4 linked regions of the Homo sapiens genome follow. The protein of the gene in region 1 binds, or shares a complex with, the protein of each later gene. Each region holds a gene or a part of one and is shown in the gene's direction. Other genes may lie near its edges.

Region 1 (5,080 bases):
TATGTCTGGGTGGTTTGGGAGCTCAAAGCCCCTGAGAATCTAAAAGCAAAAGCCCTTATGACTGGAAAAGTGAGGTCGCAGACATGTGCCCAAAACCTATGAGCCTCTTGGCTGCACTCGGAGAACTGGCCAAGCCTGTGCCACACTCCACAGGGAGGCCTGGGTAGAGTCACGAGGCAGAAAGGGCTGCTTTGCAGGTGCTCCTGGGGAGGTCGCAGCAGGTGCCTGGAATCCATCATCCGCCCATCATCAGCCCCGTTAGCCCTAAGGACACCTGGAGAGTCCCAAGGCTGCCTCTCTCGAGTGAGGGACAGCTCCAGGAAGATGGAACGTGTCCAAATCCTCCCAGGCAGTTAAAGGGTTGAGCAGCATCTGGTCTGGCCAGGTCAGACCCCACATCATTTACACCAGGGGCGAGCCTGGGTGGACTTCACAGGTGGATGGTCCTAGGGTCCTTCCATCTGTCTGCCCAGCCAACCAGACCCGATGAGCAGAGGGCAGCAGGCCTTCTGTGTAACAACCACTGTCCAATAAAAAAACCAATCCAGATTTAGTAAGGAGATATCTTTATGCAAAAGGATATTGCAATAGGAGATACCAGAATACTGCAATAGGGAGAAAGCATTGACCTTAATGTCTGCAAGCTCCCAAAGGTGACGCAGAGAAGGAGTTTTCTTATATAGGGAGGAATGAATGAGGCTGGAAAGAACCACGTCTGGGGAAGTGGGATGAAGGGTGGCTGAGGGGACAAGAGATTGAGGATACTTTACCCTGAGCCTGGCCTGCTCCAGGAGAGGCCAAACATCAGGGCGTTGGGGGAGGGGAGAAGCTGAACCAAGGCTGGGCAAACAAGCATCTTGTGTGGATTGACGCATGGGGACAAGGAGTTCAGGTAATCATTGATAAGGCAAAGATGGCAATGTAGTGGGTGCTATAGTTTGAATAAGGTGTTTGTCTCATTAATTCTCATGTTGAAATTTAATCTCCAGTGTTGGAGGTGCAGCCTGGTGGGAGGTGCTTGGGTCCTGGGGGCAGATCCTTCATGAATAGACTCCTGCCCTCCCTTGTAGGGAGTGGAGTTCTTGCTCTATTAGTTCCTGCCAAAGCTGGTTGTTAAAAACAGCCCGGCACCTCCTCCTCTCTCTTTCCCTGTGACCTCTGCACACAGGGGCTCCCCTTCATCTTCCACCATGAATGGAGGCTTCCTGAGGTCCTCATCAGAAGCAGATGCTGAAGCCTTGCTTCTTATACAGCCTGCAGAACCATAAGCCAAAAAAAGTTTTGATAAATTACCCAGCTTCTAGTATTCCTTTACAGCAACGCAAAACAGACAAAGACAGTGGGCCTGTCATGCATCAACAAGGGGCGCTGTAGGGGAGGCAGAATTCTACCTCCATTATCTTAGGGTCCAGGGTGGGCCCAAGAATTAGACTGACATTAGAGAGATGAGCAGGAGAAAAACATACAGTTATTTAATACAAATTTAATGTGGTACAGGAGCCCTCATAAGGAAATGAAGATGCAAAGAGGCAGTTAGAGTCACTTATATACAGAGGTGGACAAACACTATTAAGTTGTGAGATTTGATACGGCCACGGGGCTTGAGTGAGGATAGTTAATGGGGTGAAGAAATGACTAAGTCAAAATACTTACACACTAGGTTGAACAAAGAGTAGTAACTGTGGCAACAACTAGGAAGATAAGGGTTAGTTTAATAAAGTTTGTTTGTATAGATTTCTCTTGGCTTCTATCTTGGTCTGTTTCATGTTGTTAAAGGAATACCTGAGGCTGGATGATTTATTAAAAAAAAAAAAGGTTTATTTGGCTTATGGTTTCGCAGGCTGTACAAGAAGCACAGTGGCTGGGCGCAGTGGCTCACGCCTGTAATCCCAGCTACTCAGGAGGCTGAGGCAGGAGAGTCGCTTGAACTTCCCGGGAGGCGGATGTTGCAGTGGGCTGAGATCACATCACTGCACTCCAGCCTGGGCAACAGAGTGAGACTCAGGTCAAAAAATTAAAAAAAAAAAAGCATAGTGGCCGGGCACGGTGTAATCCTAGCACTTTGGGAGGCCAAGGTCGGGGGATCAGTTGAACTCAGGAATTCAAGACCAGCTTGGGCAACATAATGACAGCCCATCTCTACAAAAAAATTAAAAATTTAAAAATTAGCTGGATGTGGTCCCAGCTACTTGGGAGGCTGAGGTAAGAGGGGCCTGGGCAACAGAGCAAGATGAAAAAAGGAGGGAAAGGAGGGGAGGGGAAGGGAGAAGAAAAAAAGGAAGGGAGGGAGGGAGTGAGGAAGGGAGGGAAGGAGAAAGGAAGGGAGGGAAGGAGAAAGGAAGGGAGGGAAGGAGAAAGGAAGGGAGGGAAGGAGAAAGGAAGGGAGGGAGTGAGGAAGGGAGGGAAGGAGAAAGGAAGGGAGGGAGGGAGAAAGGAAGGAAGCAAGCATAGGGCCCACCTCTGCTTCTGGTGAGGGCCTCTGGCTGCTTCTGCTCATGGTGGAAGGTGAAGGGGAACCCATGTATGTGCAGAGGTCACAGGGCTGCCGCGAGAGAGGACGCCAGAGAGAGAGGGGAGAGGGGTGCCAGGCTCTTTTCAACACCAGCTCTTCAGGGAACCAACAGAGTGAAAACTCACCCTAAAGGAGGGCAGGACTCTATTCAGAGGGTGACACCCCAGGACCCACACACCTCCCACTGGCCCCCCCCTCCCTGGGCTCCAACTTTAGGGATCAAATTTCAACTTGAGAGTTGGAGGAGATTTGGAAGCTTCCACCTCCCGTCCTTGATGATAAGAACGTTCCCTTGCTTTTACTATAAGGAGAACATCTTTCATATGGGAATTTCATCTCTTGTATTTAAGAAACAACAAGAAATTCAGAATGATCTTCCTACACCTGCTTCTTCTTTTTTTTTTTTAAGTGCCTTTATCTCAAAATAGACAATATGCCAGAAAGGCACATCTTTACCTTCTTCAGAATCCTAAGGCTCATCTAAGCCGTACAGGTAAGGGAGTTCTTTGCAGGTCATAAAAAGTGGGAGATTCCTTTAACTCTGGCTGCATCCCAGAGCTTTGTCACTGTGTAAAAGTGGAATGCCGGCCGGGCACGCTGGCTCACGCCTGTAATCCCAACACTTTGGGAGGCCGAGGCGGGCGGATCACGAGGTCAGGAGATCGAGACCATCCTGGCTAACATGGTGAAACCCCGTCTCTACTAAAAATACAAAACAAAATTAGCCAGGCATGATGGCGGGCACCTGTAGTCCCAGCTACTCTGTAGGCTGAGGCAGGAGAATGGCGTGAACCCGGGAGGCGGAGCTTGCAGTGAGCTGGGATTGCGCCACTGCACTCCAGCCTGGGCGACAGAGAGAGACTCCGTCTCAAAAAAAAAAAAAAAAAAGTGAAATGCCAGCTGGGCCTGGTGGCTCATGCCTGTAATCCCAGCACTTTGGGAGGCCGAGGCGGGTGGATCACCTGAGGTCAGGAGTTCGAGACCAGCCTGGCCAATATGGTGAAACCCCATCTCTATTAAAAACACAAAAAATTAGCCAGGCATGGTGGCGGACACCTGTAATCCCTGTAATTCCAGTTACTCGGGAGGCTGAGGCAGGAGAATCGCTTGAACCTGGGAGGTGGAGGTTGCAGTAAGCAGAGATCACGCTATTGCACTCCAGCCTGGGCAACAAGAGTGAAACTCCATCTCAAAAAATAAAAAAATAAATTAATTTTTTAAAAAAGTGGAATGCCATGTGCTGGCTTCTGGAAGGCTCTTGCCACCCAAGTCATGGGGAAGGGAGAAGAGGAGCGCTGAGAAGACATGAGGAAGCTTGTGCTGGAGAGAGATGATCCCCACCACCGCGGCCTACCCGCATCAACCCTTCACAATGCTGGTGCCAGCTCTGGTGGCCACGACCAACAGGCATGAATATAAGGGAGAGGCGCCCGAGTGGAGTTCCCTGTGGGCCAATCAGAGAGCAGTGGGCCATCACGCCACCTGAGGCCAGCCAATGGGAACGCGGCAAGCTCTATAAAAGCGAGCAATCCGCTGAGGTCTGGGCAGAGGACACCGCGGGGCCAACAGTTTCGGATTCATGGCCCGAACCAAGCAGACTGCGCGCAAGTCAACGGGTGGCAAGGCGCCGCGCAAGCAGCTGGCCACCAAGGTGGCTCGCAAGAGCGCACCTGCCACTGGCGGCGTGAAGAAGCCGCACCGCTACCGGCCCGGCACGGTGGCGCTTCGCGAGATCCGCCGCTACCAGAAGTCCACTGAGCTGCTAATCCGCAAGTTGCCCTTCCAGCGGCTGATGCGCGAGATCGCTCAGGACTTTAAGACCGACCTGCGCTTCCAGAGCTCGGCCGTGATGGCGCTGCAGGAGGCGTGCGAGTCTTACCTGGTGGGGCTGTTTGAGGACACCAACCTGTGTGTCATCCATGCCAAACGGGTCACCATCATGCCTAAGGACATCCAGCTGGCACGCCGTATCCGCGGGGAGCGGGCCTAGGAGGGCTATCTCGCCACCTGAGAGGTTGCGCAACGTTCACCCCAAAGGCTCTTTTAAGAGCCACCCACCTGGTCGAAGAGTTGCTGTAGCAAGCTAGTCTCTTGGGTTTCGGGGGGTTCCTTCCGCTGGCCTGTGCTGGCTTACCTACTTCTGATTAGGGTGGGAGGCTGGTGAATCCTGTGTTCACCCTGTCCAGTTAGGAGGCCAGCTACTCACACGCGTTACCTCTCAGCCTGTCTCCAGTCACAAATCCAGCTAGTAGTGTGTGGGGCTAACTTGGCCTATCCGTTTAGATAAGAATCATGGTTGGTCTGTTTTGGGGACGGGGTGTTGAGGGTAGCCTAATTGGTCTATCTCCAGTTAGGTAAGCAACCCCAGCTAGTTGTGTCAACTCAGCCTATCTACAGTTAGGTTGGAAGGCTGGCTGGTCTTGTGTGTTCTCAGCTCAGCCTCTTTCAAATTAGGTTAGAAGTCCTGCGTGTGTGTGTGTGTGTGTACACGCAGCTTGTTTCCAGTGAGGTTACCAGTCCAGCTAGTCTTCTGCCTTGACAGCCCATCTCCTGTTAAGGCCAGCAAGT
Region 2 (7,036 bases), on another chromosome or scaffold:
TACTTTTTTTTTTCACATTTAGTTATTTCTGAAATCAAGGTATATATTATTATCAGTGTGAGCATTGAATGGAATCGTTTCTTTTTTCCTGGAAAACAAATATTAGTAAATCAATAGTACATTTTATAATCAGTAGTGTCGTAGTATATACTACTATAAAGATTCATCTAAACTAAGCTGGGCATGATGGCTTACACCTGTAATCCCAGCACTTTGGGAGGCTGAGGCAGGTGGATCACTTGAGCCCAGGAGTTTGAGACCAACCTAGGCAACATGGCAAAGCCCCTACTCTAAAAAAAATACAAAAATTAATCAGATGTAGTGGTGTGCACCTGTAGTCTCAGCACTTTTGGAGACTGAGGCAGCTGGATCACTTGAGCCCAGGAGTTTGAGACCAGCCTGAGCGACATGGCAAAACCCCATCTCTACAAAAGATACAAAAATTAGTCAGCAGTGGTGGTGTGTGCCTATAGTCCCAGCTACTTGGGAGGCTGAGGTGGGAGGATCACCTGAGCTCAGGGTGAGCCATGATCGTGCCACTGCACTCCAGCCTGGGTGACAGAATGAGACCCTTTCTCAAAAAAAAAAAAAAAAAAAGGAACCATCTAAACTTACCCACACATCAATATTAGCTTTGATAATATTGCATAACATAAAAATCAGTAAACTGACTTTCCTTTTAAGTTGACAGGGACACCTCTACCCCATCCTCTAAAAAATACACTGAACACCAGTGAATCGTCTTTAAAAGCACCCATCCTTGCCTGTCAGGTTGAGAACGTGTGCTCCCAGCTGAATCATGAGGGTTTATGGTATACTCTCTCTATTCCCTGGCCAAGATGACTCTATTCAGAACTTACTTTAATCTGGGGAACAGGCCATCTCATTTCCCTGGGAACCACAGGATCACTCTAGCTTTTGAAAAGCCACAGTTTTAAGAACATATGCAAGCATCTTCTTGATTTTCTTAGTTCACAGAAATGCTATTCCTGCATACAGTATTTTGCTGAAGGAATGACTTCTTACCCTGGGTATAGAGAAACCAAGCCTTATTCTTTGGGTTTTTTTTTTTTAAACAAATAACAAACTGCAGTGAGCGATCATTTTGTGTGTGAAAATGAGGTTTATTTCCCCTTCTTGGCTGTCTTCTCATATTATGCCTGATTCCTTTCAGGATGTCCTTCTTTCTTAAAAATAATTGTCAGAAAGCTCATCTTCTGATTTTGGGAGGTGTTCCAACAAAAGCCGGTAGGTCCAGTAGCACGTAGAATAAGAATGCAGAATCCAGCCAGGCATGGTGGCTCATGCCTGTAATCCCAGCACTTTGGGCGGCCGAGGTAGGCAGATCACCTGAGGTCAGGAGTTCAAGACCAGCCTGACCAACATGGTGAAACCCCATCTCTACCAAAAGTACAAAAAAATTAGCTGGGTGTGGTGATGCATGCCTGTAAGTCCCAGCTACTTGGGAGGCTGAGGCAGGAGAATCGCTTGAACCTGGGAGACAGAGGTTGCAGTGAGCCGAGATCATGCCACTGCACTCCAGCCTGGGCAACAGAGCAAGACTCCGTCTCAAAAATAAAAAGAATGTGGAATCCGGGGGCACTGGCATGGCTATTACCTGCCATTGTGAATAGAAATGTCCTGAGATGACTCTTAACTCGGGCATGGTACTCGGCACTTCTCAAGGAAACATTCTACATCACATATGTGTTCTTTTCAGCTGGTCGGTTTGAATGTAATACTTGCAGGTAAGTTTATCTGTAATCCTTTTATTACCTAAATCAGCCAGTGCTTACTCTGCTGTCCACCAGTTGGACTAGAACTCACTCTATTCTGGCAGAAGGGATATCTGTTTTATGATGATTGTGAGATCTTATTTTTATTCTCCAAAATAGAGTTTCTAATAAGACTATTGTTCTATATAAAGCTTTTCCTTTAAATTGACCACTGATTCTAGAAGATTGGTGTAATCTAAAGATCTTAAGAATACTTGGGTGCTTCATGCATATATTTATTAATATATATTTATTAATATGTATATAGCTATTCATCTGCTTGTATAAATATGTACATATTTACATTTATATTAACATGTGCATATAGGTTCAGTAAAAAGCTCACCTGAACTGAAATGAACTTCACAATTATGGTTTGTTTCTAAGTGTCTTTAATATGCAAACCTTACATCAGCAACATATTGATCCAGAATTCAGTGTGGACAGAATTAGTGTTAAAAAGAATACCTGTATTTTAAATGTTCAGGAATTTGCTAGTAATTACATTGTAGTTTGTATCATGCAAAAATGATGATCCTAAAAATGATGATTACAAATGCATTTGTTTTGGGTATTTAGTTATTTACTGATTTGTTTCAGAGGTACACAGCTTATTTTTATGCCAGAGAGAACATTCAAATCAAAGTAAATAAATCATGTCTTCCAAGATCATTTACATCCTATAAATGTCCACAAACAGAGGTTTACTTTCTCTAGGTAGATATGAGAGTTAAGGCTTCTAGTCATTTTTCCAGGACAGTAATGATTTGTATATAAGCTAGCATTAATTCCTTTCCCCTATATTTCCTAATTTGTAAATGTTCAAATTGATTTTTTTTTTTACACTGTGGAACTCTGGGCTTTTGCATCAGAGAATGTCTTGTTCATTAAATTCAAATAAGCACATTAGCATTGCCTATATCCATGTGTTCCCAATATGTTACTCTCCCAGGCCTAGGTTATTTACTTGGTTTATAACACAATATTATTACACATTAGCCTTGATTATGTCTTTACCATCAACTTTTAACATGCCAAATTGAAAGCAGTGTTTGCTAATTAATTTAGAGGAATGAATTCAAGTTGCCCATGGTTATGCTTTCTAAGACTGTTTTTTTTCCTTCCCGTTTTTGTCTCTTCACTAAGACAATATGAATGATGATTCAAGTAACTTGAAAGAAGGCAGTAAAGACAATCCCGAACCTCTAAAGTGCAAACAAGTGTGGCCAAAAGGAACAAAGCGCGGTCTATCTAAGTGGAGGCAAAACAAAGAGAGGAAGACCGGATTTAAACTGAATTTGTACACCCCGCCAGAAACACCCATGGAGCCTGACGAGCAGGTAACAGTGGAAGAACAGAAGGAGACTTCAGAAGGAAAAACCAGCCCCAGTCCCATCAGGATTGAGGAGGAGGTCAAGGAAACTGGGGAAGCCCTGTTGCCTCAAGAGGAAAACAGAAGGGAAGAAACATGTGCCCCTGTAAGTCCAAACACATCACCAGGTGAAAAACCAGAAGATGATCTCATCAAACCTGAGGAAGAGGAAGAGGAGGAGGAGGAGGAAGAGGAAGAAGAGGAAGAAGAGGAAGGGGAAGAAGAAGAAGGAGGAGGAAATGTAGAAAAAGATCCAGATGGTGCTAAAAGCCAAGAAAAAGAGGAACCAGAAATCTCCACGGAAAAAGAAGACTCTGCACGTTTGGATGATCACGAAGAGGAGGAGGAAGAGGATGAAGAGCCATCCCACAACGAGGACCATGATGCCGATGACGAGGATGACAGCCACATGGAGTCTGCCGAAGTGGAGAAGGAAGAGCTGCCCAGAGAAAGCTTCAAAGAAGTACTGGAAAACCAGGAGACTTTTTTAGACCTTAATGTGCAGCCTGGTCACTCGAACCCAGAGGTCTTAATGGACTGTGGCGTCGACCTGACAGCTTCTTGTAACAGTGAGCCCAAGGAGCTTGCTGGGGACCCTGAAGCTGTACCCGAATCTGACGAGGAGCCACCCCCAGGAGAACAGGCACAGAAGCAGGACCAAAAGAACAGCAAGGAAGTCGATACAGAGTTCAAAGAGGGAAACCCAGCAACCATGGAAATCGACTCTGAGACTGTCCAGGCCGTTCAGTCTTTGACCCAGGAGAGCAGCGAACAGGACGACACCTTTCAGGATTGTGCCGAGACTCAAGAGGCCTGTAGAAGCCTACAGAACTACACCCGTGCAGACCAAAGTCCACAGATTGCCACCACGCTCGACGATTGCCAACAGTCGGACCACAGTAGCCCAGTTTCATCCGTCCACTCCCATCCTGGCCAGTCCGTACGTTCTGTCAACAGCCCAAGTGTCCCTGCTCTGGAAAACAGCTACGCCCAAATCAGCCCAGATCAAAGTGCCATCTCAGTGCCATCTCTGCAGAACATGGAAACCAGTCCCATGATGGATGTCCCATCAGTTTCAGATCATTCACAGCAAGTCGTAGACAGTGGATTTAGTGACCTGGGCAGTATCGAGAGCACAACTGAGAACTACGAAAACCCAAGCAGCTACGATTCTACTATGGGAGGCAGCATCTGTGGAAACGGCTCTTCACAGAACAGCTGCTCCTATAGCAACCTCACCTCCAGCAGTCTGACACAGAGCAGCTGTGCTGTCACCCAGCAGATGTCCAACATCAGCGGGAGCTGCAGCATGCTGCAGCAAACCAGCATCAGCTCCCCTCCGACCTGCAGCGTCAAGTCTCCTCAAGGCTGTGTGGTGGAGAGGCCTCCGAGCAGCAGCCAGCAGCTGGCTCAGTGCAGCATGGCTGCTAACTTCACCCCACCCATGCAGCTGGCTGAAATCCCCGAGACGAGCAACGCCAACATTGGCTTATACGAGCGAATGGGTCAGAGTGATTTTGGGGCTGGGCATTACCCGCAGCCGTCAGCCACCTTCAGCCTTGCCAAACTGCAGCAGTTAACTAATACACTTATTGATCATTCATTGCCTTACAGCCATTCCGCTGCTGTGACTTCCTATGCAAACAGTGCCTCTTTGTCCACACCATTAAGTAACACAGGGCTTGTTCAACTTTCTCAGTCTCCACACTCCGTCCCTGGGGGACCCCAAGCACAAGCTACCATGACCCCACCCCCCAACCTGACTCCTCCTCCAATGAATCTGCCGCCGCCTCTTTTGCAACGGAACATGGCTGCATCAAATATTGGCATCTCTCACAGCCAAAGACTGCAAACCCAGATTGCCAGCAAGGGCCACATCTCCATGAGAACCAAGTCAGCGTCTCTGTCACCAGCCGCTGCCACCCATCAGTCACAAATCTATGGGCGCTCCCAGACTGTAGCCATGCAGGGTCCTGCACGGACTTTAACGATGCAAAGAGGCATGAACATGAGTGTGAACCTGATGCCAGCGCCAGCCTACAATGTCAACTCTGTGAACATGAACATGAACACTCTCAACGCCATGAATGGGTACAGCATGTCCCAGCCAATGATGAACAGTGGCTACCACAGCAATCATGGCTATATGAATCAAACGCCCCAATACCCTATGCAGATGCAGATGGGCATGATGGGCACCCAGCCATATGCCCAGCAGCCAATGCAGACCCCACCCCACGGTAACATGATGTACACGGCCCCCGGACATCACGGCTACATGAACACAGGCATGTCCAAACAGTCTCTCAATGGCTCCTACATGAGAAGGTAGACAACGTGGGCAGTCCACAAAACCTACGGGGCATCACTATTGGATTGATCTGCACAAATACCTTTGAAGAGTACGATTTCAAAACCAGCAATTGGTGTGAATGCAAAAACATTTGTTGGCACCATTTATTTAAAAAAAAAAAAAGCTGTATGCAGCAGAAAGCCTTATACAAGTTGTTTTTCTTTTTTTCCTTTTTCTTTTTTTTGGTACCTTCATTTCTGTTACTTTTATATAAAATTCTCTGCAAAGGAAGGCCTCTCTTTGGACTACAATTTGGAGGCAGCCACTTGTTGTGCCTGCTTCTGTTAAACAATGTGGATATCAAGCCCCCCCAAATTATCTGTTTTAATATTGAACCTAGAGCTTTTTTTTTCCCTTCCCTGTCCACTCCATGTAAATGCCTTTAGCATTTCAGTTATTGTATATTTTGTTTAAGGTGACACTTCAGCATGCCGCTAATGTCTTTGTTAGTGACAGTGCATTTTGTAGTACTGTACAAGTGTTGTGCTAACAGTAAGCCATTTCTTAAGTTTTTTGCCTTGATTAGGGTGCCCTAATTTGAGGGTTTTAAAAAAAACTATATTTTTGTTAATTATAAAACTGTAAAGAGCTATAAAAGCTATTCCCATTTGGTTAGTCAAAAGGGTTTTATTGCTAAATGTTTGGTGTAAAGTTGAGACCCTTTTCCATTTTGGTGACAGATTTCTTTGGGGAAAAAAGGCAGCTTTCTGTTTTATAAATGCAGACTTCTGTTTATTGAATGAAGCATATCTCAGTGTTTATCTGTCAGGTTTTGAAACATTTCATATATGTCCAAATACTTGGCAGGATTTAAAAAAAAATAGTGAATTTGGTGTAAAGTTGCTATTTTATGGAAATGCCTCTAACTTTACATTTTCATTCCATCTGTAGATTTTTCTATCTTTATAAAATATTGGAGTTATTTTTTAAGGAAAAATAGAAAAGTAGCTTGTGAATAGCTCAAACTAAGCTTACAAATCGCATGTAAAAAAGCAAAAAAGTTATTTGTGTCTGTTTATATTGCTTCCTTTTTTGTAGCCTTTGTACCTGTACAGGGTGACAGTAAGGGCCAAGCAGGAGAGGCGTAATCCTTGTATAAAATAGGATCCAGCGACACTCTTGTATTTATCTGTTCTCTTTTTAGTCAGTCACTTCAAAAAAACAAAAAACAAACAAAAAAAAGCTGTACATTTTAACATAAAATAAATTATGATGAGCCATTTTTAGCCTCTTGTGTCCTGTCATATTATGATTGATAGAGAATGACCAATGGAACTGTATCATGTGTCACGCCTCAGAACACATACACATTTTGGGAAAATAAATTATTTAGTGTAAATTGGAGTTATGGGATTTTCTGATTTGTTTTGACTTTGGGGGAGGGGTTGGCAATAAATAAGAGTAATATCTAATAAAACCATCACATATACCAAATACCTATTTAATAAATTAATTTATAATGGATTTTAATGCTTTTCATGAAAGTTTATTTTATGCGAGTGCATACCTTCTGTATGCCAATCATTGTCTTTAAAA
Region 3 (3,906 bases), about 180 Mb from region 1:
AGTTTAATATTATAAAAATAGCCATGTCTCACTTGCTCCCTGACAGTGTCTCAGGAACCCCTCAGAGGTTCACAGACCACATTTTCAGAAGTGCTGTTATAGGAGGTGGAACTGAATTGCAGAGAACTTAAACAATTTATCAAATATCAAACATTTGAGTAGTTAAATCTTAGAACACCTCAGATATTGGGTGTAGGAGGCTGTAGTTTATGCCTAATTGTTAGATTGATACAAAATGTATTTACTGATTACCTATTCAGTAAATGAATTGTCAATAAGTAGGGAACTGTTTCCACTCAATAAATGAACTGTAGCATGATTGTAAGAGCAGATGTGAGCATCCACATCCTTTTAGACTCACTGCCCTGCCCCTCTCTCATTTTTTAAGCCATGTCCCTAAGGACCTTCTCCCAGGTATACCTATCAGACCTTTCATTCAGCCAATATGCTGAATGAAATATCCCCCCGTATACCAAGCCCTATGCTGGGAATACGATGAGGACTTGGGGTACTTACCTGCTTCTGGAAGGAATAAAAGTTCTGAAGTACTTTGCCAGGTCCCATGGTAGGTGACTCTTTTTCATCTTTCCTGTTAAGAACATATTTCTTGGTTGGGCACAGTGGCTCATGCCTGTAATCCCACCACTTTGGCAAGCCGAGGCAGGCAGATCACCTGAGGTAAGGAGTTCGAGACCAGACTGGCCAACATGGTGAAACCCCGTCTCTACTAAAAATACAAAGATTAGCTGGGCATGGTGGCACGTGCCTGTTGTCCCAGCTACTCGGGAGGCTGAGGCAGGAGGATTGCTAGAACCCAGGAGGCTGAGGTTGCAATGAGCCAAGATCAGGCCACTGTATTCCAGCGTGATCTCAGCTCTCTGCAAGCTCCGCCTCCTGGGTTCACACCATTCTCCTGCCTCAGACTCCCGAGTAGCTGGGACTACAGGCGCCTGCCACCACACCTGGCTAATTTTTTGCATTTTTAGTAGAGATGGGGTTTCACCATGTTAGCCAGGATGGTCTTGATCTCCTGACCTGGTGATCTGCCTGCCTCAGCCTCCCAAAGTGCTGCGATTACAGGCATGAGCCACCGTGCCTGGCCAAAAAAAACACATGTCTTATAGTTGAGTATGGTTCTAGTATTTCTTCATGGCAGAGCCCTGGAGAACCCGCAGGGGAACAGTTGAGGGAATGTAAGAAGGACTCTTGATTCTGGCACTTAACTCCTGTGTTTACTAAGTTTGTTATAGCTGGATTTTTTTTTTTTTTTTGGTCACCTAGAAGCAGGAGAGGGCAGAGATAGGGGCAGACTTTGACTTAGCAAGGTCTTTAACTGTTAACATTTTTCAGCCCAGAGAGCTGCCTTGCTCTCTAAAACAGTTACTTTGTCCTGGTTCACTCTTCCCTGAGTAGAGGACAGTTACCTTTGTGTGCAGGTGGACGTTCCTTTCACCCTCCTTCCTTCCTGTTTCCTCAGAGCCAGGACTGTCTCCAGTTTGGTCCTCCTGCTGAAGGGGAAGTGGTCCAAGTGAGATGGACAGACGGCCAAGTCTATGGAGCCAAGTTTGTGGCCTCCCACCCTATCCAAATGTACCAGGTATCCAAAGTTCTACCTTTCTAGGGAGTGGGGGGTGCTTGATTAATTCTGTGCTTCCTGTTGGGCCAGAGGCGAGTCTTTGCTCTTAGGAGAACTAATAGGTTGGTAACCCTTTCAGAGCTAGGGGTCTGCCCTGTTTCCAGTCTGCCAAATGTGAAGTAAGGTAGTTGTTATTTTAGTGTTCTAACTCCTTCCTTTGACTGTAGGGGACTGCCACTGTGCATGGTGGACCAGGGAAAGAGTCAGGGATATCCTAGCCAAAAGGCCTTTGTTTCCTTGGTAGGTGGAGTTTGAGGATGGCTCACAACTTGTGGTTAAGAGAGATGATGTATACACACTGGATGAAGAGCTTCCCAAGAGAGTCAAATCTAGACTGGTGAGTATTTTCTGTGTCCCCCCAGTTCCTGTCTTGGAGGGAGGGAACAAGTCAAGGATGCATCCCTTTGTATTGTTCCTGGGGTAGCTGACACTTGGCTTGCTTATTCTTCTATAGTCAGTAGCCTCAGACATGCGCTTCAATGAGATTTTCACAGAGAAAGAGGTTAAGCAAGAAAAGAAACGGCAACGAGTTATCAACTCAAGATACCGGGAAGATTATATTGAGCCTGCACTATACCGGGCCATCATGGAGTAGGTGCTTCCAGGGTCCAAGGGATTCTCAGCCATCCAGGCAAGAGCACTCTGGGTTCCACAGCACAGCAGACATGGAACGCTGAAGTCTCTGAAAGTGAAGTTGTAAAAAGAAAAGGAATGAAATAACCGACCCATCATCTTCTCACCCACCCTCATTGCATTCCGCTGTAGTGAAAGGACGAGCCATTTCTGGGCACGTGGCAGCAGTCGCTGATCTCCCAGCTGAGGGGCTGAGCACTGGAATGCTGTGGCTGCACTGGCCCCAGTCCATAGAGGGGTCAACTATGCTGGCTGGACTGGCTGCCTTGTTCCTGGCCTAGGACTTAGCTTCATAACTATCACCTGCACCGACTAGGCTGAGGTGCTGGTACTTGCCCCAACCCCTACTTTTGTATTTATATGTGTGTGTGTGTGTGCGTGCGTGCGTGCGTGCGTGTATGTTTGGTCTGGACCAGCTTCTGCCAGCCCCTGGCCTTTACTTTCTTCCTTGCCTATGCAGGGCAAACAAAATGTGAAATTCTGCCCTCAGCTGAGCTGAGTAAGGGCTCCTGGGGGTTGGCTGGAGATGGGTGTGGCATCTGTCCAGGCCTGGAACCGTCTCAAGACAGTGCTGGCAAAGCTGCAGTATTGAGATGCTAAGGAGCTGATGCCACCTCTTTGTCTTCCCCTAAAGGAGAACATGGGGATAACATGGGTGTGTGCCCACAACACTCTAGGTGCAGAGCCCCTGTGGCAAAGTATTACAGGGTGTGGGTGGGGATTACCCTGAATCGGGGATTTTAATGATGGAAGCAGGCAGAGCCTGGTGGGTGATTCTGTCAACAGAAAATTGCAATCATGCAGGGGCTGGGAGGGTTAGGATGAAAAAACTGGGGCCATTGGAGGCCCACTGTAGGTGGGAGGGAGCTGATTTTGGGGTGGGGGGTGGGACTAGAGGGCAATACTGAAGGGGTTAAACAGGTTTTTGCTCCTCAAGAATTTGTTTGCCTGGGCCCAGGATTGGAGGGCTTCACACCAATACCCTGTGTATACAAGAATCAGATTTATAATACTTCCCCTTTTTTGTTACGTATGAACACTATAAACCAAATTATTTTGAAAACTGGTGCATCACCTTGTCCTTAGCAATAAAATGTGTTGAGCAGAGGATTGGCTGTCTGCCCCAAGGAGCCCACGTGGCCCACGTCAGGCTGGGGGGTGTATCTAGAGTCATAGGCTCTGGAGCGGGGCTGTGTATTTTAAGACAAATCAGTAAGGCATTCCCTAGGAAGTTCCAGAGAGTGGGTCCTTTGCTTGTCAAGCTCTGTATTAGGCCAAGTATGGTGGGTCATGGGAGCAGGGACACTTCTGGCTCTGAGCACCTCTTTGTTGTGCTTGCTCTGCCTTAGAGACGGGCAAGATGAGGTAACAGAGGAAGCACCAGACCAATGAGTCCTCTCAACAGAGTATCTCTCACTGCTGCCCCATTTGATACATCTTTGTTGAACTGGCCTAAGTTCATGCCAGCATCTGTGCTCTATACAAATTGTGGAACCAGTGGGAAGGATGGGTGCATTTTAGGTGCTTGAAAAGCAAGGGACTCAACCTCCAGTGGGATCCTCAGATTGCTCTCCGAGCTGTCTAGTTGGTGAGAAGCTTCCCTGGAGGAAGACCCAATCTCCTTTGGCTGGTAGATC
Region 4 (7,964 bases), on another chromosome or scaffold:
ACCAATTAATTACCTATTAGCTCATTTGTGAAGCATTTCCCCTCCCTATCCTTTCTGGTTTTTGACTCTTTCTAAATGACCATGCATATGAGGCCTCCAATCTCACAAAGCCTACATGCCTAGCTTCTGCCAAGCGTCACTCCATCTAATGTCATTTGTCTCTATAGTAACCAACTAGAAAAGCTGCTATGCTTAGTAATGGCTTTGTACGAGCAGTGGTCTAGCCTAGAGATGTTTTAAAGATTTGAGTCCTCTCTACCGATTACTGTTTTTTTTCCTGGTATTAAAAAGTGAACCTCTGATGAATGAGAGCAGTAGAGGGTTAGAGAGAAAAGGATGGAATATATTATAAAACATGAAGGAAGATGGACTGCAAGTAGAGACTTGAGTTCAAGAGGAAACGAGTTTAGAAAGACCTTGATTGATAAGAGGACTAAGAAGACACAGACAAAAAACTAGGTATAAGAAACAGAAAATAATTATTAGGCATTTCCCTTCAAAATGGTCAAAAACAACATAATGATATACACACCAAGAAACTGTCAATAAATGTAATTACAGTGCTTCAGAAAGCTGACTGATGTAACCTATGGCTATGCAAAAGGTGTTTTACAGTATAGTCCAGCTATGGATAAGGGATCAGATATAGCTTATACCTTCAACAAACTTCTAACACAATGATGGGTAGAAAAGAACACAAAACAGTGAAACTTTTATTAATGACGTGGAGCAGAGAAGGGGAGAGGGTACGCTATGTAACAGACATGGAAACCTTATAAAAAGTATAAGGATGCATTCCAGGATGTGTAGCTCCATCCCCCACACCTTCCAAGGGATGCCTTTTTCAACAGGAGGCTTGACATCTGTAGTACCCCGTGGGGAGCCTCCCCCAGCTTTGCCTTGGCTGGGTCTCCTTCTCTCTCCCAGTATACACCTGGACCAACCTCATTAATGGAGCTTTGTTCCTCAAGAGTTCATTAATCAAGTCATTACTGGAGTGTCCGCCAGCCTGTGGGTTCTTCCAGAAAATGATACCAATCTATTTTTTCTACATACAAAGCCCACTTTAAAATTTACTTGACATGGTAGAGAGTACAAAGGTACTAGGACAGCCATCAGAGGAATGGGTTTCTGAGCAGCAGCATCCTCATTTGTTATATGGGATGATATCTTACCCTCCTGCCATTCCTGTTTGTGAGGCTCAAAAACAGGTATTTTAAAGTTTTTTACAAATTGTCAAGAAAACATTTTTTCTTTTGCCTATTTTAACATAACTGGTTACAGGTGCATCTAACACTTTCTATTTCGCATCATACTTATTTGATTAGTTACCTTTCCTACTGAACCATAAGGTCTTTGTATGTCTTATCTTTGACTATTTCTCACAGAGCCTAGCATAAAAATTTCACATAACAAATGCTCTCTGTATGTATGTAATGAATTATTATTGAAATCATTATTGTACAATTTACTCCATTTAGAAATGTCTATGAACTCCATCAAATCTCTAGTCTATATTTATACAGAAAATTTTATTTAAAACTATCATTAAATTTTGACATCCTATTTCTAATAAATAAAAAGGAGCCTCTTAAACTAACTAAAGACCATATTAAAACAAGCCTTACATGAGGAATTTTTTTAAGTTGGTAATAATACAAATGAGAAGACAATTCAACACAGTGATTACCCGAGGTGGAAATCTAGATTTGAACAAAAGCTAGAGGTTAGTACTTCCATTCCTATGATAACTTTTGCAGTAGACACGGGCTGACACTCAATTTAATTCCTAGTTCTAATGTATTTTAATTTGGCACATTTTGATTTAATTCAATTTTAGTATATTTGAATTCGCTCTTTCATCTTGTTTTGTGTATGACCTCAATTTGACTTCAAGTTTCACTTCTCTGTAGAGGAGTCTTGAATCCATGCAAGTAAGCTGCATCTTGTGTCTTCAGAATTCAAGCTATATGCCCAGTGGTATATACTTCCTCTGAAGAATGGCAACAGCACACCACTCCACATACGCCACACCCTTACTGGCATGGCTAAAGGACCACATCATTTCACCCACAGGAAGTGCTTGGGAACTGACCAATATTTGGATTCAGTAAGATTAGATGCTCAAATAAGCTTAATTCTGAGGGGAAAAATATCTTATAGCTATATTAGGTTGTTAGAGCTGCCATAACAAAATATCACTCACTGGGTGGCTTAAACAATAGAAATTTACTTTCTCACAGTTCTGGAAGCTAGAAATCCAAGATCAAGGTGTTGGCAGGTTTGGTTTATTCTAAAGCCTCTTTGCTTGGCTTGCAAATGGCCACCTTTTTGCTGTGTTTCCTCTGTGTGCGTGTGACCCTTGTGCTTCTCTGTAAATCTAAATTTCCCCTTGTGAGGACGCCAGCTAGATTAGATTAGGGCCCACCCCAATCACCTCATTTAACTTAATCTCCAAATACAGTCACATTCTGAGGTACTAGGGATTAGTGCTTCAACATACGAATTTGGGGGAGACATAATTCAGTCTAAAACAACAACTAACTAGTTTCATGTATTTCTGCCCTAAGCACTAGTTTAGGCTTTGTTCTGTTCATCTTAGAGCCGATAAAATCTCTCTCAGCCATCCTTCCCCCAAGTAACCCATAGTGAGAAGTGATTGGGGGATTACATTCCATGCAGCCCTCCAAACATTATGTGGGACCCCCTTGGGTACTTAATAAAGACATTCACAGTGACCCATCTGTTGTACAATTAGATGTTTGGGAGTCACCAAAGTTGTTCAGCAACAAGTCCTACTGATTGCCTCTGAAACCAGAGAGAGGCTTTCACAATTCTTTTTTTCCTACAGCATACCAGTTAAATTAGAAATATGCCAGGACATATCTGAGGAATCCTTTCGGTCTCTCCTGGAGTAAGGTAGTATCAATGGTGAGGAAACTATTGAACAAAGTGCTCAACGACCCTTTAGTATTTCTGACAAGCAATAATACAAGAGTTAAGACAGGAGAAGCCTGGAGCTAATTCTTGCAGCTTCCAGTGAAATGTTGGGGAGTTTTTTCTTCTTAAATACTGTTGCATATGATGTGTTAAACAAAAAATTTTAAAGAAAATAAGCCAAATTAGTGGCATTCAGGTAGATCTTCTCAGTCCTTCATGCTGCACATCCACCAAAAGTGAGTTTTACAACTAGTCTCATTGTAACACTTACGGTCAGACTGCAAAATGCACGTGATTTTAACAAGCATAAAATGTCGTTTTCATGAGACTGACTAGACTCTCCTCTTAAGAGTACCTGTAATAATCAGACAACTGCATACACCAGTCTCACAGGAGTTTTAATCTTCAAATGGTCATTTTATCTTACATATACAGAGTGTCTTACAGCATACAGCAATTTCCACTTTATCTGCTAGTGTTAGGACCAGCACTAATAAGAATGAAGAGTATGTTGTTTATCAGCCACAAAAATCTGTGTCTATCACCATGGTTTGACTCTTAATACTCTAATGTCACAAACAACTGGCTTGAAGAAGTGTTTTTTGGTAGGTCCTATATCTAACTGTTCAATCCACTGACAAAAAAAGGGAACTCTTCCCCACTCTAACCGGTTTTCCTAAATGTACGAGGGGTTGACATTAGCTGTCTCACATTAACTTTCAAAAGACCATCAGATGAAAACGTTTCATCAAAAGCCACCTACTTAAGTATGAACAATGACCAAAGAATGACAAATCAAAATTCTGGGCACTATACTAAGAGAAAACTCTTCCAGAACACATACTTAAGAATTAATTTTCTCTCTGAATTTGGCCAAGTTTGGTGGTTTCATTCACAACATTTAAGGAAAAAAATGATGGTTTATGGCTAGCAGATAATAAAACAAACCTTTATACCACTTACTAAATAGAAACGGTTTAGGCTCACAAATATGTTAAAGCTTTCTCTTTCCCCGCAATGGTAGCCAAGCAGCATAAACGAATCAACATTTCCTCAGTTCAGACCTCAACTGGTTACAGGCAAGCAAGGGCTCCTCAGAATTTGCTTTACTAACGGTTTAGGTCAGAAATTTTTTTGAAGATCAAATGTCTTGCTATGTCTTTGTGTTCTTTTTCCCATCTCTATTACGTTTGTTGCCCTGTTGGTCTCCTAACACTTCCATTTTCTCCTTTTATGTTCCTGCTATGCTCTCCAAATGGCAGTAACCTGAAGTATAACTGATCACACCTCTTGTGATTTTTTTTTATTCTAGGACTTCCCAGATCTGGACTCCGAAGAAGACGCCCAGGTGCAAGCCCAAAGGTTACCTATTTAAATTTTCCAAGCACAGTGTGTAGAAAATCATTCCTCGCCCTTCATTTTGTGTTGCTTAACGGCGCTGTCGTGCCTAAACGTAGATACTGGCCAAGAGCTAGATTTCCAAAATGGCTTTGCTCCTTTCGAGCTGACATCGGTCTATAACATGCAATTTATTTCCCCTGCAGCCAATCTTTCTCTCTACTCCAAATACTACCCGATACGCAGAAAGCTGAACCTAACCCAGTGTAAACACCGACTCTCATCTGCTAAATTCAGCAAGGCCGGCAAAGCTGTTGCACTGATGTAAAAAGAGCGTTAAATCAAAAAACCAAAAAAACAAAAAAAAAAACAAAAAAACGCCAAAACACCCACACGAAGCCAACTGGAGGGGCGGGCGTCGGCCGGATCGCGCCCTCCCGCCGCAGCCACGCCTCCCCGCCGCGGCCACGCCCCCTCCGCCCCTCTCCGCGCCGCCGCCGGCGGCCTCCGCGCGGGCCTCCCAGCCCTTATTCCACTCACTTTGTTCTCCGCCTTTGTCCTAATCCACACCAGCAGGTGGAGCCGCAGTTAAAGTTTCCGAGTCCATTCCGGGAGCGGGAGCCCATCTTGCTGGCTGCCGAGGCCCTCGCTGGAGGAGGAGGGTCAGAACTCGGGTGCAGCCAATCGAGGGCAACGCTGCTACTTATCAGAGCAGAATGGGCTGTAGTTTAGTGAAATAGGAAAGCTGCAAAACACTGTGGAGTGCTCCCGTGTAAATAAAAAGAGGAAAAAAGTTTCTCAAGTCGCCGCTGCACGACGTCTGGCCGGCGCTGGAGCGGGGGTCTGCGCTCTCCCGAGCGGCCGCGCGCTGGACTTTATTGTGCCGCAACCAGCCCCAGTTCCCATTGTTTGTGTTTTTTTCAAAATATGGCAAAGGTTCAGGTGAACAATGTAGTGGTGCTGGATAACCCTTCTCCTTTCTACAACCCGTTCCAGTTCGAGATCACCTTCGAGTGCATCGAGGACCTGTCTGAAGGTGAGTGCGGCGCCCGTGCGCCCGGGCTGTCAGTTGCGGGCTGCAGACGTTGAAAGTTTCCCGGGCCGGGCCTCGCGCTGGGCGGCTGTGTTCGGCGCCTGGCGGCCGCGGGCTGCTCTGCGGAGGGAAACTTGAAGTTGATGGACGACGGCCGCCGAGGCGCGCGCGGCTTTCCGCCGCAGCCCAGGCGCCTGCCGGGCTCAACTTGCGAGGAACTTGTTTGAGCGGAGGAGCGGAGGTAGCCATGTTGTCAGCTTTGTCTGCGGGCGGGCAGCTCGGAGACCCGCACTCGCTCCCGCTGCGCCGCCTGAGGTCGCGCCGGGCTGGCTCCGCGCCGCCAACAGCCTCCGCGACCCTCCGGGCCCGAGCACGGAGGCTGGGAAGGGAGAGGCTGTGCGTGTGGTCGCGCCGGCGAGTTCGGAGCGGAGCCATCTTACCCCGAGTCGAGAATTGGGCCAGCGACCCCGGCGCACGGCGCCTCCTCTTGCCCCGCCGCCCGCCTGCCCCCGGCGAAAGGCAGGCAGGCACTCTCGAGAGCTCACGGTGGAGTCGCCGCACTCTCCGGGCTGGCCATGCCTGGCCGCTTCGGGGAGGAGAGCGAGGCTGTCCTCGCGCTGATTTCTGGCTTCCTCGACCAACCAGCGGGGGAGGCGGGCGCAGGCTCGGCCCCTCCGCGCCGCGGGCTGGGCGCCGGCGCTCCCCGGGGGCCGTGGGTCCTGTTCGGCCGGTCCTCCTCGGCCGGCGCCCGGGATGCGCCGGGATGCTGGCGCGCAGGCTCCCCAACCAACGTGGACTCCTTTCCCCTAATGACGAAAAGCTAATTTCAGGAAGAGAAATAGAGCTGAGGTAGGAAGTTACATTTAACCTAAAAGCAGAAATAAGATACTTAAATAATTTCCAGGACTTAATCTCTGCCTTATAAATAGTCTGAAGGAAGACTTTCTTCAAGACCGTGTTGAAATCTAAAATAACTCCACATCCAAATACAGAACACACCCTAAACATAAAACACAAACGTAGGCTAGGAAATTAAGGTCAACTCCTCATGTCAGTCCAAGAATTCTTGGTATTTTTTCTACATATATTTTAAGGTCTTAAAAATACGTATTTTTAATATCTTTAGTAATAAATATTTAGAAAGCTAAAACGACAATTATCTTTGCTTTAATTATCTTTTACTAAAGTAATTCAGTGCTTCATTTGCCAGTTTTGAAGGGGAAATAGTTTAACTTCATCGATGAGGGACATACTTTGAACTAGAAGTATATGTAAAAAATGCATTGAAGATGATTTAGGTAATCGTGGCATGTAAAACTTTTCATTTTAAAAACTAGTTTTTAATCTCTAAAATGTATATATCATATGTAAGGTTAATTTTAATTATAAAACAATATATATTCATTGTAATAAACTTTTAGAAAGTTGTACAGGCATATATAAAGTTAACAGTTCTCTGTACTCAGTGCCTTGCCCTATCTCCTTTCGGTAATCACAATTATTACTTTAACATGTGCCCCCGTTTTTTTTTTTTTTTTAAACCTATATAGAGCATAAATGCACATACATATATAGGGCAAATTTTGAAAGATGATTCATTTATTAAAATAATTTCAAATAGGCCATTGATAACACTAAGGGGTATTTTTCTTATTACTCTGAAGTCATTTGATTACTCTCCTATGATACTACTATTAATATAAGCATTGCAGCTACCAGGCCCATTTTTCACACCCAACAGTAATTTTTTTTTTATTGCCAACTGCATATAAAAATAGACAAAAGAAAAACCATTGATCGGTCCATTCCAACTTATACCACACTGTTTTTCAGATATACCACCAGAAGTTCTTCAAATTACAGGTATTTCTCAAGTGTTGCCTTCCATTTTAGGAGTCAGCTCTGAACAAAGAAGATAGATGACTCAGGATGTCGTTACAGGGCTTTTACATTGCATAGATGAAACCAGCCATTCATAAAGCCAAAACGTTCCATTTTTAACTGGGATCCATTCAGAACCCAGCTGAATCACATCAGGGATTTACAGTACTGGTGTCAAAAACATACTTATTTCCAATGGTATATTTCACTTCCTAGGCACCATTACTGAGCATTTATTTAGTATTTTAAAAAATATTTTAAGCTGAGTCATACTGAAGCTGCAAAGGAATCTTTCAAAAAGGTGCCATGCCTGTATACTCCACCTAGAGGCTATGTGGATTAAGGAAATTTTTACTTAGCAAAGGCTTCTAATAGGTTCCATACTTTTATATTACAGTTCTTTTAAAAATTCTGTTCTTAAAATTAAACTATAGAATTTTTTTTTTTTTAAATGAGACAGTGTTGCTCTGGCACTCAGGCTGGATGGAGTACAGTGGTGCAAACACAGCTGCTCCCTGCAGCCTCAACCTGGGCTTAAGCAATCCTCCCACCTTAGCCTCCTGAATAGCTGGGACCATAGTCGATGTGCCACCACATTGGGCTAATTTTTTAATTTTTTGTAGAGACGGAGTTTTGCCATGTTGCCCAAGCTGGTCTCGAACCCCTGGGCTCAAGCAGTCCTCCCACCCCTGCCTCCCATAGTGTTGTGATTATAGTGAGCCCACTGCACCCAGCCCAAACTATAGAATATTTTGAAAAGAATTTTCTTAAT

What was found.
Region 2: the proteins of H3-4 (region 1) and KAT6B are in contact, whole or in part, in a crystal structure (PDB 6OIE), measured with the Homo sapiens proteins. Residues at the interface, in NP_003484.1 of Homo sapiens: Ala2 (codon at 4,095), Arg3 (codon at 4,098), Thr4 (codon at 4,101), Lys5 (codon at 4,104), Gln6 (codon at 4,107), Ala8 (codon at 4,113), Arg9 (codon at 4,116), Ser11 (codon at 4,122), Thr12 (codon at 4,125), Gly13 (codon at 4,128), Gly14 (codon at 4,131), Lys15 (codon at 4,134), Ala16 (codon at 4,137), Pro17 (codon at 4,140); in NP_001357065.1 of Homo sapiens: Ser217, Phe218, Leu220, Arg227, Ser242, Ser243, Gly244, Cys248, Leu249, Lys250, Phe251, Leu255, Trp264, Cys266, Ile267, Glu268, Lys270, Gln278, Ala282, Asp283, Asn284, Met285, Leu286, Phe287, Cys288, Asp289, Asp292, Met307, Pro308, Lys309.
Region 3: the proteins of H3-4 (region 1) and KDM4A are in contact, whole or in part, in a crystal structure (PDB 2YBP), measured with the Homo sapiens proteins. Residues at the interface, in NP_003484.1 of Homo sapiens: Ala32 (codon at 4,185), Thr33 (codon at 4,188), Gly34 (codon at 4,191), Gly35 (codon at 4,194), Val36 (codon at 4,197), Lys37 (codon at 4,200), Lys38 (codon at 4,203), Pro39 (codon at 4,206), His40 (codon at 4,209), Arg41 (codon at 4,212), Tyr42 (codon at 4,215); in NP_055478.2 of Homo sapiens: Ile71, Tyr85, Asn86, Ile87, Gln88, Ala134, Asp135, Val160, Ile166, Thr167, Ile168, Glu169, Gly170, Val171, Tyr175, Tyr177, Glu190, Asp191, His240, Lys241, Met242, Ser288, Thr289, Asn290, Arg309, Asp311, Met312, Val313, Lys314, Ile315.
Region 4: the proteins of H3-4 (region 1) and ASF1A are in contact, whole or in part, in a crystal structure (PDB 8Z50), measured with the Homo sapiens proteins. Residues at the interface, in NP_003484.1 of Homo sapiens: Asp107 (codon at 4,410), Leu110 (codon at 4,419), Cys111 (codon at 4,422), His114 (codon at 4,431), Lys123 (codon at 4,458), Gln126 (codon at 4,467), Leu127 (codon at 4,470), Ala128 (codon at 4,473), Arg130 (codon at 4,479), Ile131 (codon at 4,482), Arg132 (codon at 4,485), Gly133 (codon at 4,488); in NP_054753.1 of Homo sapiens: Val45, Ala48, Glu49, Glu51, Asp54, Val92, Thr93, Val94, Leu96, Arg108, Gly110, Tyr111, Tyr112, Asn114, Glu116, Leu140, Asn143, Arg145, Thr147, Phe149.

The regions. Positions count from the first base shown.
Region 1 is NC_000001.11:228,424,337-228,429,416, reverse strand, and holds H3-4 (histone H3.1t), read left to right. Parts: upstream 1-4,056; 5' UTR 4,057-4,091; coding exon 4,092-4,502; 3' UTR 4,503-4,572; downstream 4,573-5,080. UniProt on the Homo sapiens protein: Core component of nucleosome. Nucleosomes wrap and compact DNA into chromatin, limiting DNA accessibility to the cellular machineries which require DNA as a template.
Region 2 is NC_000010.11:75,025,568-75,032,603, forward strand, and holds part of KAT6B (histone acetyltransferase KAT6B), read left to right. Parts: intron 1-2,921; coding exon 2,922-5,479; 3' UTR 5,480-7,036. UniProt on the Homo sapiens protein: Histone acetyltransferase which may be involved in both positive and negative regulation of transcription. Required for RUNX2-dependent transcriptional activation. May be involved in cerebral cortex development.
Region 3 is NC_000001.11:43,702,140-43,706,045, forward strand, and holds the end of KDM4A (lysine-specific demethylase 4A), read left to right. Parts: intron 1-516; exon of another isoform or gene 517-589; intron 590-1,424; exon of another isoform or gene 1,425-1,477; coding exon 1,478-1,597; intron 1,598-1,880; coding exon 1,881-1,973; intron 1,974-2,090; coding exon 2,091-2,231; 3' UTR 2,232-3,379; downstream 3,380-3,906. UniProt on the Homo sapiens protein: Histone demethylase that specifically demethylates 'Lys-9' and 'Lys-36' residues of histone H3, thereby playing a central role in histone code. Does not demethylate histone H3 'Lys-4', H3 'Lys-27' nor H4 'Lys-20'.
Region 4 is NC_000006.12:118,889,209-118,897,172, forward strand, and holds the start of ASF1A (histone chaperone ASF1A), read left to right. Parts: upstream 1-4,943; 5' UTR 4,944-5,205; coding exon 5,206-5,314; coding exon of another isoform or gene 5,315-6,117; intron 6,118-7,964. UniProt on the Homo sapiens protein: Histone chaperone that facilitates histone deposition and histone exchange and removal during nucleosome assembly and disassembly.